Linked DNA regions of Homo sapiens: region 2 is linked to region 1. The links come from fine-mapping of genetic effects on plasma protein levels. A gene starts in region 1. The other region holds a variant in brackets. All regions are shown on one strand. Distances are from middle to middle. Region 1 holds the start of CCL26 (C-C motif chemokine ligand 26). Region 2 has its middle 17 kb from the start of CCL24.

The links. PIP is the chance, under the fine-mapping model, that this variant and not a neighbour inherited with it causes the effect. The UK Biobank Pharma Proteomics Project read protein levels with antibody pairs (Olink). The fine-mapping took linkage between variants from a reference panel, not from the people measured, so its PIPs are less certain.
Region 2: its variant is fine-mapped to the plasma level of the CCL26 protein (UK Biobank, PIP above 0.99).

Annotation. Positions count from the first base shown.
Region 1 is chr7:75,769,704-75,775,072 of GRCh38, forward strand. CCL26 (C-C motif chemokine ligand 26) reads right to left here and starts at 2,508. Exons shown (of 3, transcript NM_001371938.1): 1 at 2,401-2,508; 2 at 2,186-2,300; 3 at 1-86. The coding sequence starts at 2,473. RefSeq lists a silencer at 3,028-3,322.
Region 2 is chr7:75,793,842-75,799,210 of GRCh38, forward strand. No RefSeq gene overlaps it. Among named protein-coding and RNA genes, the nearest start is that of CCL24, 17 kb to the right of the region's middle. The variant GGA/G (reference allele first, on the strand shown) is at 2,447.

The sequences.
Region 1 (5,369 bases):
TCGGAGTTTTCAGTAAAGAAATGTATTTTTGCACCCATTTTTTCCTTGGATGGGTACAGACTTTCTTGCCTCTTTTGGTAGTGAATCTGTGAAAAAGAGACACGGATAAGTCAATATTGAGACTCTTTGCCTCCTGGGGTGGGATAGAAAGGGAAGGAGGGGCAGCTCTCTCACTAGTCTTCTGGCCTTGCCACAAACTTGTTGCTCTCTGTCCCTGTCCCCTCTTCTCCTGGGCCTTGTCTCCCTCCTCTTTCCTATCTTGATTTCCACTGGAAACTATGCCTCCAGACCCACCTCTACCAGGTACCATTTACCGTTTTCCACCAGTTCTAGCCTGCAGCATGTAACCTGCACCAGGACACTTAATTTTTTTTTTTTTTTTTTGAGACGAACTCTCACTCTGTTGCCCACATTGGAGTGCAATGGCATGATCTCAGCTCATTGCAACCTCCATTTCCCAGGTTCAAGTGATGCTCCTGCCTCAGACTCCCAAGTAGCTGGGATTATAGGCACGCATCAGCACACCCAGCGAATTTCTGTGTTTTTAATAGAGACAAGGTTTTGCCATGTTGGCCAGGGTGGTCTCGAACTCCTGACCTCAGGTGATCCGCCTGTGTTGGCCTCCCAAAGTGCTGGGATAACAGGTGTGAGCCACCACGCCTAGCCTTTATTTTGTTTTATTTTTTATTTTTTTTGAGACGGAGTTTCACTCTTGTTGCCCAGGCTGGAGTGCAATGGCGCGATCTCGGCTCACCACAACCTCTGCCTCCCAGGTTCAAGTGATTCTTCCGCCTCAGCCTCCCAAGTAGCTGGGATTACAGGCATGCGCCACCACGTCCAGCTAATTTTGTATTTTTAGTAGAGACAGGGTTTCTCCACGTTGGTCAGGCTGGTCTCGAACTCCCAACCTCAGGAGATCTGCCCACCTCAGCCTCCCAAAGTGCTGGGATTACAGGCGTGAGCCACCACGCCCGGCCTATTTTATTTTTTTTGAAACAGTTTCTCTCTTGTCACCCAGGCTGGAGTGCAGTGGCGCGATCTCTACTCCTGCAAACTCCGCCTCCCGGGTTCAAGCGATTCTCCTGCCTCAGCCTCCGGAGTAACTGGGCTTACAGGCCTGCGCCACCTCACCTGGCTGATTCTTTCATTGTAATAGAACAGCTTTGTTGGGATATAATTCACACGGCACATACAGTTGACTCTTGAACAACACGGATTTGAACTCTGTGGGCCCACTCATAGGCAGCCTTTTGCCAACCAAAGGAGGATAGAAAATACAAAACTCGGTGATGCAAAAGCTGCATAAATTCAGGGGAAATTGTATGCCAAAATCCTGGCACCAATCCCCTGTGGTTACTGGGGGATAACTGTAATTCACTCTTTTTTTTCTCTTTTGTTAGGGATGAAGTCTCTCTGTGTTACCCAGGCTGGAGTGCAGTGGTGCGATCATACCTCACTGCAGCCTTGAACTCCTGGGCTCAAGCGATCGTCTAAACCTCCCCACCATGTACAACTCCACCAATTTAAAGGCTATAATTATAATTCAATGGTTTTTAGTATAGTCATAGATTATGCAACCATCACCACAATCAATTTTAGGATATTTTCATCACCCCAGAAAGGAACCCTGCACTCAACATGTCATTTAATTGTTAGCCACATTTTCAAGGTTATTCATCATAGCTGATGATTCCTGAGCTCTTACTTCACTGTGAGTTTATTAAAAGTGGGGATTGGCTGGGTCCAGTGACTCACACTTGTAATCCCAGCATTTTGGGAGGCTGAGGCGGGCAAATCACATGAGCTCAGAAGTTTAAGACCAGCCTGGCCAACCATGGTGAAATTCTACTAATAACACAAAAATTAGCTGAGCATGGTGGCATGTGCCTGTAATTCCAGCTACTTGGGAGGCTGAGGCAGGAAAATTGCTTGAACCCGGGAGGGGGAGGTTGCAGTGAGCCAAGATCGTGCCATTGCACTCTAGCCTGGGCAACAAGAAAGAAACTCCGTCTCAAAAAGAGAAAAAAAAAGTCAGGTTCTACCTGAAGCTCAGAGTCACACTTGTTAGTGTGCAGAGGTGGGGTTTCCAGGTTCCCATCCCAAGGCTCATCCTGGGGGTCTGCCCAGCACCCATCCTGTTGCATGACTGATGGGGCCCCAGAAAGTACGTCCGAGAAATACTCACATCACAGCCCGCTGGGAGCAGCTGTTACTGGTGAATTCATAGCTTCGCACCCAGGTCCAGGGAAGGGGCTTGTGGCTGTATTGGAAGCAGCAGGTCTTGGATATGTCACTCCCACCTAAAAATCAGGGAGAGGAAGGGTTTGGAGATACTCATTTCCATCCACTCCCAGGCGGTCCGGGAAGGAACCCCAGGAGGGGAATGGGCCAGCTACGTACGTGTGGCAGTTCCAAGGTGGAGACTCAGGAGGGAGGCCAGGAGCACAGCAGAGGCCAAGGAGAGGCCCATCATGATGCTGCAAATCAGGCCCTTCTCAGGTTTCTCCCAAACTCCTCCTGCCTGATCCCCTTTTATGAGACTGAGACGGCCCTGAAAACAATTCCAGAGAATTCTGTGGTTGGGAACAGAAGCAGCACTTTTGACCCAACAAAGGAAAAGTAAACTAATACTCATAGGAATGAAATTAGACAGTGAAGAAAGATAATCTGGCACTGGGCGTGGTGGCTCATGCCTGTGATCACAGCACTCTGGGAGACCGAGGTGGGCGGATCCCTTGAGGTCAGGAGTTCAAGATCAGCCTGGCCAACATGGAGAAACCCTGTCTCTACTAAAAACACAAAAATTGGCCGGGCATGGTGGCAGGCAACTGTAATCCCAGCTACTCCTGAGGGTGAGGCAGGAGAATCACTTGAACCTGGGAGGTGGAGGTTGCAGTGAGCTGAGATGGCACCACTGCACTGCAGCCTGGGCGACAGAGTGAGACTCTGCCAAAAAAAAAAAAAACAAACAAACAAACAACAAAAAAAAACAAGTGACAGATGGTAGAGATCCCTTTATTGAATTCCATCAACAGGGACAAAAAAAGAAGAGAATTTGGGAGAAGAGCAGGGGCAGGCAGGCCCCAGGGAGTCTGGTTCCCAGTGCTGTTGGCTGAGTCAACACTTTCTTGTTTAAAAAGAAAAAGCAGAGGAAATTAAGTAATATTCCAGTGAACTGAACTAAGTTACTTTATAGCACAATTGGTTGTTGAAGATAGGTTTCTGGCTCTTGGGCAAAGTTTTGTTTCCTTTCTAAGCATTGCTTATCTCTGTGTGGAGCTCTGGATGGTCTCAAGATGTGATCATAGAGTAGCCCAACCTCGACAATGGATATTTAAAAACAGGGTCCAGGCAGGTGCCAGCCCATCTTCTTGGGGCCACACCTGTAGGGCCAGGGCTGGCTGGGGGCATTTGAGAGATCTAACAGATCCCAAACCTGACAGATCATCACAATCACCCGAGGCTTAAAACAAAACAAAACAAACAAACAACAACAAATAATATATATATATAGTGAGAGAGAGGGCCTGGTCAACATGGTGAAACCCCGTCCCCACTAGAAATAAAAAAATTAGCCAGGCACGGTGGCGGGCACCTGTAATCCCAGCTACTAGGGAGGCTGAGGCAGGAGAATCGCTTGAATGCAGGAGGCAGAGGTTACAGTGAGCCGAGATCCCGCCATTGCACTCCAGCCTGGGCGACAGACCAAGACTGTCTCAAAAAAGAAAAAAAAATAGAGATGAGGTCTCTCTATGTGGCCCAGGTTGGTCTTAAACTCTTGGCTCAAGTGACTGTCTCACCTTGGCCTTCAAAAATGTTGGGATTACAGTGAGCCACCACGTCTGGCCATACCTGGTCAATTATTATTATTATTTTGTGTGTGTGTGTGGGGCCAGTCACAGTGGCTCACGCCTGTAATCCCAGCACTTTGGAAGGCAGAGGCAGGGGGATCGTCTGAGGTCAGGAGGTTGAGATCAGCCTGGCGAACATGGTGAAACCCCGTCTCTACTAAAAATACAAAAATTAGCCGGGCTAATTTTGTGGTGGCTCATGCTTGTAATCCGAGCAACTTGGGAGGCTGAGGCAGGAGAGTCACTTGAACCTGGGGGGCAGAGGTTGCAGTGAGCCAAGATCGTGCCATTGCACTCCAGCCTAAGAAAAAAGAGCAAAACTCTGTCACAAAAAAAAAGAAATTTGTAGAGCCCAAAGGTTGCCAGGCTGGTCTCAAACTCCTGGCTTCAAGGCGATCTGCTTACTCCAGCCTCCCAAAGCACTGGGATTATAGGGGAGAGCCACCACACCTGGCTTCAGCCAAATTTTTAAAAGAACTTAACAGAAGTTTGTGATAGTCAGAGCTGTTGTAGGTGGGAAGAGGATAGATGGTGAGTTGCCTGTCACTCAAACCAGGCACAACAGTCTGGATGATCATGAGAGGGTGGTTTGTTTTTGTTTTTGTTTTTATTGAGATGGAGTTTTGCTCCTGTTGCATACGCTGGAGTGCTATGGCACAATCTCGGCTCACTGCAACCTCTGCCTCCCAGGCTCAAGCAATTCTCGTGACTCAGCCTCCCAAGTAGCTGGGATTACAGGCATGCGCCATCACGCCCGGCTAATTTTGTATTTTTAGTAGAGATGGTGTTTCACCATGTTGGTCAGTCTTGTCTCGAACTCCTGACCTCAAGTGATCCACCTGCCTCAGCCTCCCAAAGTGCTGGGATTACAGGCATAAACCGCCATGCCCAGCTGTTTGTTTGTTTTTTTGAGACAGAGTCTTGCTCTGTCATCCAGGCTGGAGTACAGTGGCACAATCTTAGCTCACTGCAGCCTCCACCTCCTGGGTTCGAATGATTCTTCTGCCTCAGCCTCTGAGTAGCTAGGATTACAGGCATGCACCACCATGCCCGGGTAATTTTTGTATTTTTAGTAGAGACAGGGTTTCACTATGTTGCCCAGGCTGGTCTCGAATTCCTGACCTCAACTGATCTGCCCGCCTCAGCCTCCCAAAGTGCTGAAATTGCAGGTGTGAGCCACCCCACCCGGCCTATTTTTTTTAATTAAATAAAAATTAACTGAGTATGGTGGCATGTGCACCTGTAGGCCCAGCTACTCAGGAGGCCGAGGCAGGAGGGTCACTTGAGCCCAGGAGTTCAAGGCTGCAGTGAACTATGATCATGCCACTGCACTCCAGCCTAGGTGACCGAGCAAGACTCTGTCTCTTTAAAAAAAGAATTATTGGTCGGGCCCGGTGGCTCACCCCTGTAATGCCAGCACTTTGGTAGGCTGATGGGGGTGGATACCTTGAGGTCAGGAGTTCAAGATGAGTCTGGCCAACATGGTGAAACTCCGTCTCTACCAAAAATACAAAAATT
Region 2 (5,369 bases), 24 kb after region 1:
AGGAAGGGAGGGAGGGAGAGAGAGAGAAAGAAAGAAAGAAAGAAAAGAAAAGAAAAGAAAAGAAAGACAGAAAGAAATAAAGAAAAAGAAAGAAAGAAAAGAAAGCGGGCCAGGTGAGGTGGGTAACACCTGTAATCCCAGCATTTTGGAGGGCCTAGGTGGGCAGATCACTTGAAGTCAGGAGTCGAGCCCAGCCTGGGTAATATGGTGAAACCCTGTCTCTACTAAAAATAAAAAAATTAACTGGGCGTGGTGGTGCCCACCTGTAATCCCAGCTACTCGGGAGGCTGAGGCAGGAGAATCTCTTGAACCCAGCAGGCAGAGAATGCAGTGAGCCAAGATTGTGCCACTGCACTCCAGCCTGGGCGACATAGTGAGACTCTGTCAATAAAAAAAAGAAAGAAAGAAAAAGAGAGAGAGAGAGAAATAAGAGAGAAAGAGAAAGGAAGGAAGGAAGGAAGGAAGGGAGAGAAAGAGAAAGAGAGACCGCGTGCAGTGGCTCACACCTGTAATCCCAGCACTTTGGGAGGCTGAGGTGGGTGGATCCCTTGAGGTCAGGAGTTTGAGACCAGGCTGGCCAACATGGTGAAACTTGTCTGTACTAAAAATACAAAAATTAGCCAGGTGTGGTGGCACGTGCCTGTAATCCCACCTACTTGGGAGGCTGAGGCAGGAGAATTGCTTGAACCTGAGAGGCGGAGGTTGCAGTGAGCCGAGATCGCACCACTGCACTCCAGCGTGGGCAACAGAGCAAGACTCTATCTCAAACAAAAAAAAAAGAAGAAGAAAAAAGGAAAAAAAAAAAGAGAGAAGTAAGGAGTGGATGTAAAGAAACTCCCTTGTCTGCTGTCCCAGTGAGACCTACACATGGGGAGCTAGTGAGGGGAGCCAGAGGAGGCACAGTGTGTTAGGAGGGGTTCCCCAGCCCTGGGAAGCTCTTCCTGGAGGAAGCAGCATCCTGGCTTGTGTGCAACAGAGACCAAGCCGAATCAGGAGAATAAAAACATGTTTCGGCCGGGCGCCGTGGCTCACACCTGTAATCCCAGCACTTTGGGAGGCTGAGGCAGGAGGATTACTTGAGCCCAGGAGTTCAACACTAGCCTGGGCAATATAGTGGAACCCTGTCTCTACAAAATCTTAAAAATCAGCTGGGCATGGTGGCACATGTCTGTAGTCCCAGCTACTTGGGGAGCCTGAGGTGAGAGGATCGCTTGAGGCCAGGAGGTTGAAGTTGCAGTGAGACACGATCACACCACTGCACTCCAGCCTGGGTGACGGAGTGAGACCCTGTCTCAAACAAACAAACAACTAAAAAACCGTATCTCCTGGAGTTGGAAGAAAAACAAACTTTTTTGTTTGTTACCAGTTAATCCATTTACCCTGAAAGCGGTTCTAGGAGAGTGGTTTCTTTATTTCTCTTTCTTTCTTTCTTTCCTTCTTTCTTTCTCTCTCTTTCCTTCCTTCCTTCCTTCTTTCTTTCTTTCTCTCTTTCTTTTTCTATCTTTGTTTCTTGATCTCTTGCTTTCTTCTTTCTTTCTTTCTTGATCTCTTGCTTTCTTCTTTCTATCTTTCTTTCTTGCTCTCTTGCCTTCTTCTTTCTTTTTTTCTCTTTCTTTTTTTTTTTTTTGAAACAGGGTCTCCCTCTGTCACCCAGGCTGGAGTGCAGTGGTGCAATCTCGGCTCACTGCAGCCTCCAGCTCCTCGGTTCAAGCGATTCTCCTGCCTCAGCCTCCCAAGTAGCTGGGACTATAGGCATGCACTACCACGCCTGGCTAAGTTTTGTACTTTTAGTAGAGACAGGGTTTCACCATATTGCCCAGGCTGGTCTCGAACTCCTGACCTCAAGTGATCCACCTGCCTCGGCCCCCAAAAGTGCTGGGATTACAGGCATGAGCCATGACACCCGGCCTAGGGAGGTTTTCTTATCCCCTTTTACAGCCTAGAAAACTGTGGTTTGTTCAAGGCCACAAAACTCATGGATGGCAGAACCAAGGCTCAGAGCTGGGTCTGTGTCATGCCTGTGCCTTGTCCTGCCTCTGACAGTCTCAGAGTCCTACCCCCCAACCCTTAACGCTGAGAATGAACCTTCAGGGTGGCTTCCGCCAGGCTTTGTCCCGAAGCTAAAACTACTCTGTAGTTACAGGACCATATCAGAGCCAAGGGCAAATAGCAGCTAGATAGATAAGGGGAGGCATCTGCGGGTTAGCAAAAGTCAGCAAATTCCCTTCCAAACTTTCAATTGGCCAATAAAAAAAGGGAAATGCAGCCCATCCCACCAGCTTCGAGAACATAACAACGAACTGCCAGTTGCTTGGGAGAAGCGCAGCTCTTCCCCATTCTGAGTCTTGAGAGATGTTTCCCCAAGCAAGGTCGTGACCGGGCATGACCCATAGCAAGAACTGAATGTTCCTTTGGGCTTGAGATTATTCAGAAGTTAGAAGGCTGG[GGA/G]GAGAGAGACTTCCAGGGAATGCCTTTTTAGAGGCTGAAAAGCACTCCAACCTGGACAACAGAGTGACACTCCGTCTCAAAAAAAAACTAGTGGCAAAAGGCAGAAGGTGGGATTTAGTAGGAGCCACGGGAGGAGGGGTCTGGGGTCCTCTTGCTGGCCTGCTTACACTGAGCATTCGGGGAGTATTAGTCTCCCCTACTCAGCTACGGTCAGTAACAGAATAATTTCCTCTAAATCTTGCCTGTATCTCAGGCAGAATAAGCGACTGGAAGACCCAAATGACCACCTTTCTTTTGATGAGACACGGTCTTGATCTGTTGTCCAGGTTGGAGTACAGTGATGCAATCACAGCTCGCTGCAGCCTCCAACTCCTGAACTCTAGCGATCCTCCTGCCTCAACCTCCTAAGTAGCTGGGACCACAGGCACACATCACTATGTCCTGATAATTTTTTTTTTTATTTTTAATTTTCTAGACATGGGGGTCTCCCTGTGTTGCCCAGGCTGGTCTCAAACTCCTGGGCTCAAAGCATCTTCCCACCTTGTCCTCCCAAAGTGCTAGGATACCAGGCACGAGCCATCACACAGGGCCACGTACAGCTTTCTAAGAAGGAAACTTCTGGCCGGGCGCGCCCGTATTTCTAGCACTTTGGGAGGCCCAGTTGGGTGGATAGCCCAAGCTCAAGAGTTTGAGACCAGCCTGGGCAACACGGTGAAAACCCATCTCTACTAAAAAATCCGCTGGGCATGGTGGCATGTGCCTGTAATCCCAGCTACTGGGAAGGCTGAGGCACGGGAATTGCTTGAACCCAGGAGGCAGAGGTTGCAGTGAGCCGAGATCGTGCCACTGCGCTCCAGTCTGGGCAACAGAGGGAGACTTGGTCTCAAAAACAAAACAAAACAAAACAGTCCAGGCGCGGTGGCTCACACCTGTAATCCCAGCACTTTGGGAGGCCAAGGCGGGCAGATCACAAGGTCAGGAGATCGAGACCATCCTGGCTAACACGGTGAAACCCCGTCTCTACTAAAAATACAAAAAAAATTAGCCAGGCATGGTGGTGGGCGCCTGTAGTCCCAGCTACTCAGGAGGCTGAGGCAGGAGAATCGCTTGAACCTGGGAGGCAGAGGTTGCAGTGAGCTGAGTTCACCACCACTGCACTCCAGCCTAGGCGACAGAGCGAGACTCCATCTCAAAAAAAAAAAAAAAAGAAGAAGGAAACTTCCATAAGTTCTTTTGTTTTCTTAGAGATAGGCTCGCTTTTTTTTTGTTTGATTTTTCTGAGACAGAGTCTCACACTGTCGCCCAGGCTGGAGTGCAGTGGCACCATCTCAGCTCACTGGAACCTCCGCCTCCAAGGTTCAGACAGTTCTCTTGCCTCAGCCTCCCGAGTAGCTGGGACTACAGGAATATGCCACCACATGTGGCAATTTTTTGCATTTTTAGTAGAGACAGAGTTTTGCCATGTTTGCCAGGCTGGTCTCAAACTCCTGGCCTCAACTGATCCGCCCGCCTCGGCCTCCCAAAGTGCTGGGATTACAGTCAAGAGCCACCATGCCCAGCCAGAGTCTTGCTTTGTTGCCAGGCTGGAGTTCAATGGCACGGTCATGGCTCACTGCAGCCTCCAACTCCTGGGCTCAGGCAATCTTCCTGCCTCAGCCTCCTAAGAGGCTGAGAATACAGGTACGTGCCACCATGCCCGGCTAATTTTTTAAAATAGAGATAAGGTCTCACTATATTGCTCATAGTAAGACTCGTCTTCTGGCCTCAAGTGATCCTCCTGCTTTGGCTTCCAAAATACTGGGAATACAGGTTTGAGCTGCTGTGCCCAGGCCCATGCGTTCTCAAGGGGCTTCCTGGAAATGAACAGGTCTGTAATTTTGGGAAGTGAGATAGTATAACTACCCTTTTAATAGAGAGGTTTGACCTAGAGAAACAAGGTCATGGAATTCTTCAGAATCAATAACTTTGCAAGGGCTGGGACCTAGAGCCAGGATAGAATTTCAGCAGTTCTGACAGCAAAACATCTTTCTCGGTCAAAAAAAACATTCATTCTGGCAACTTCTCCCAGCAGTATACTTCCCAGAAGGACATGGGGATGGGAAGAAGAGAGAGAGACTGCGTCTCAGAAAGAATTGATGAGCTGGGAAGCCAGGTGGGGTGGTTCACACCTGTAATCCCAGCACTTTGAGAGGCTGAGGCGGGTGAATGGCTTGAGGCCAGGAGTTCGATACCAGCCTGGGCAACATAGTGAAACCGCGTCTCTGCTAAAAATACAAAAATTAGCAAGGCGTGGTGGCACGTGTCTGTGGTCCCAGCTACTTGGGAGGCTGAGGTGGGAGGATTTTTTTTTAGCCCAGGAAGTCGAGGCTGCAGTGAGCTGTGATCATGTCACTGCACTCTAGCCTGGATGACAGAGCGAGACCCTGTCTCAAAAAAAAAAAAATTATAAGCTGGGATTTACTAGGTAGGGAAGCCCAACACTGCATGGCTCTCTAGAAGCATGTTCTATCAAGAGATGGATGGAGGCTTGGCATCCCTTGCAGGAAGGCTGGTTGGTGGAGAGAGGACAAAAAGCCAGGGAGGAGGAGAGGAGGAGGGGAAGCGAGGAGTTGAAAGCTTTGAAAAGTTCAAAGGCTTCGAACAAGATAAGACCTTATGCTGACCTTTCTTTATCTGGCAGTTCCAGCTGCCACCTGGAGGAAGAAGTGACTGAGACCAGAACTGTGCCCACCAGCTGCCACACTTACCTGGCAAGGGCTCAGAGTCAAGATACCCAACCCAGCTCAGCACTTCTCCCTGGACCTCTTCCAACTGCATGAAGCCCTGGGTCCCTGGGTTGTTCACAGTTCGTTGTCTCCCGGTGTAGAAAAGTCTGTCAACCCTGCTTGGACATCGCAATCACCTGGGTAACTTTTTTTTTT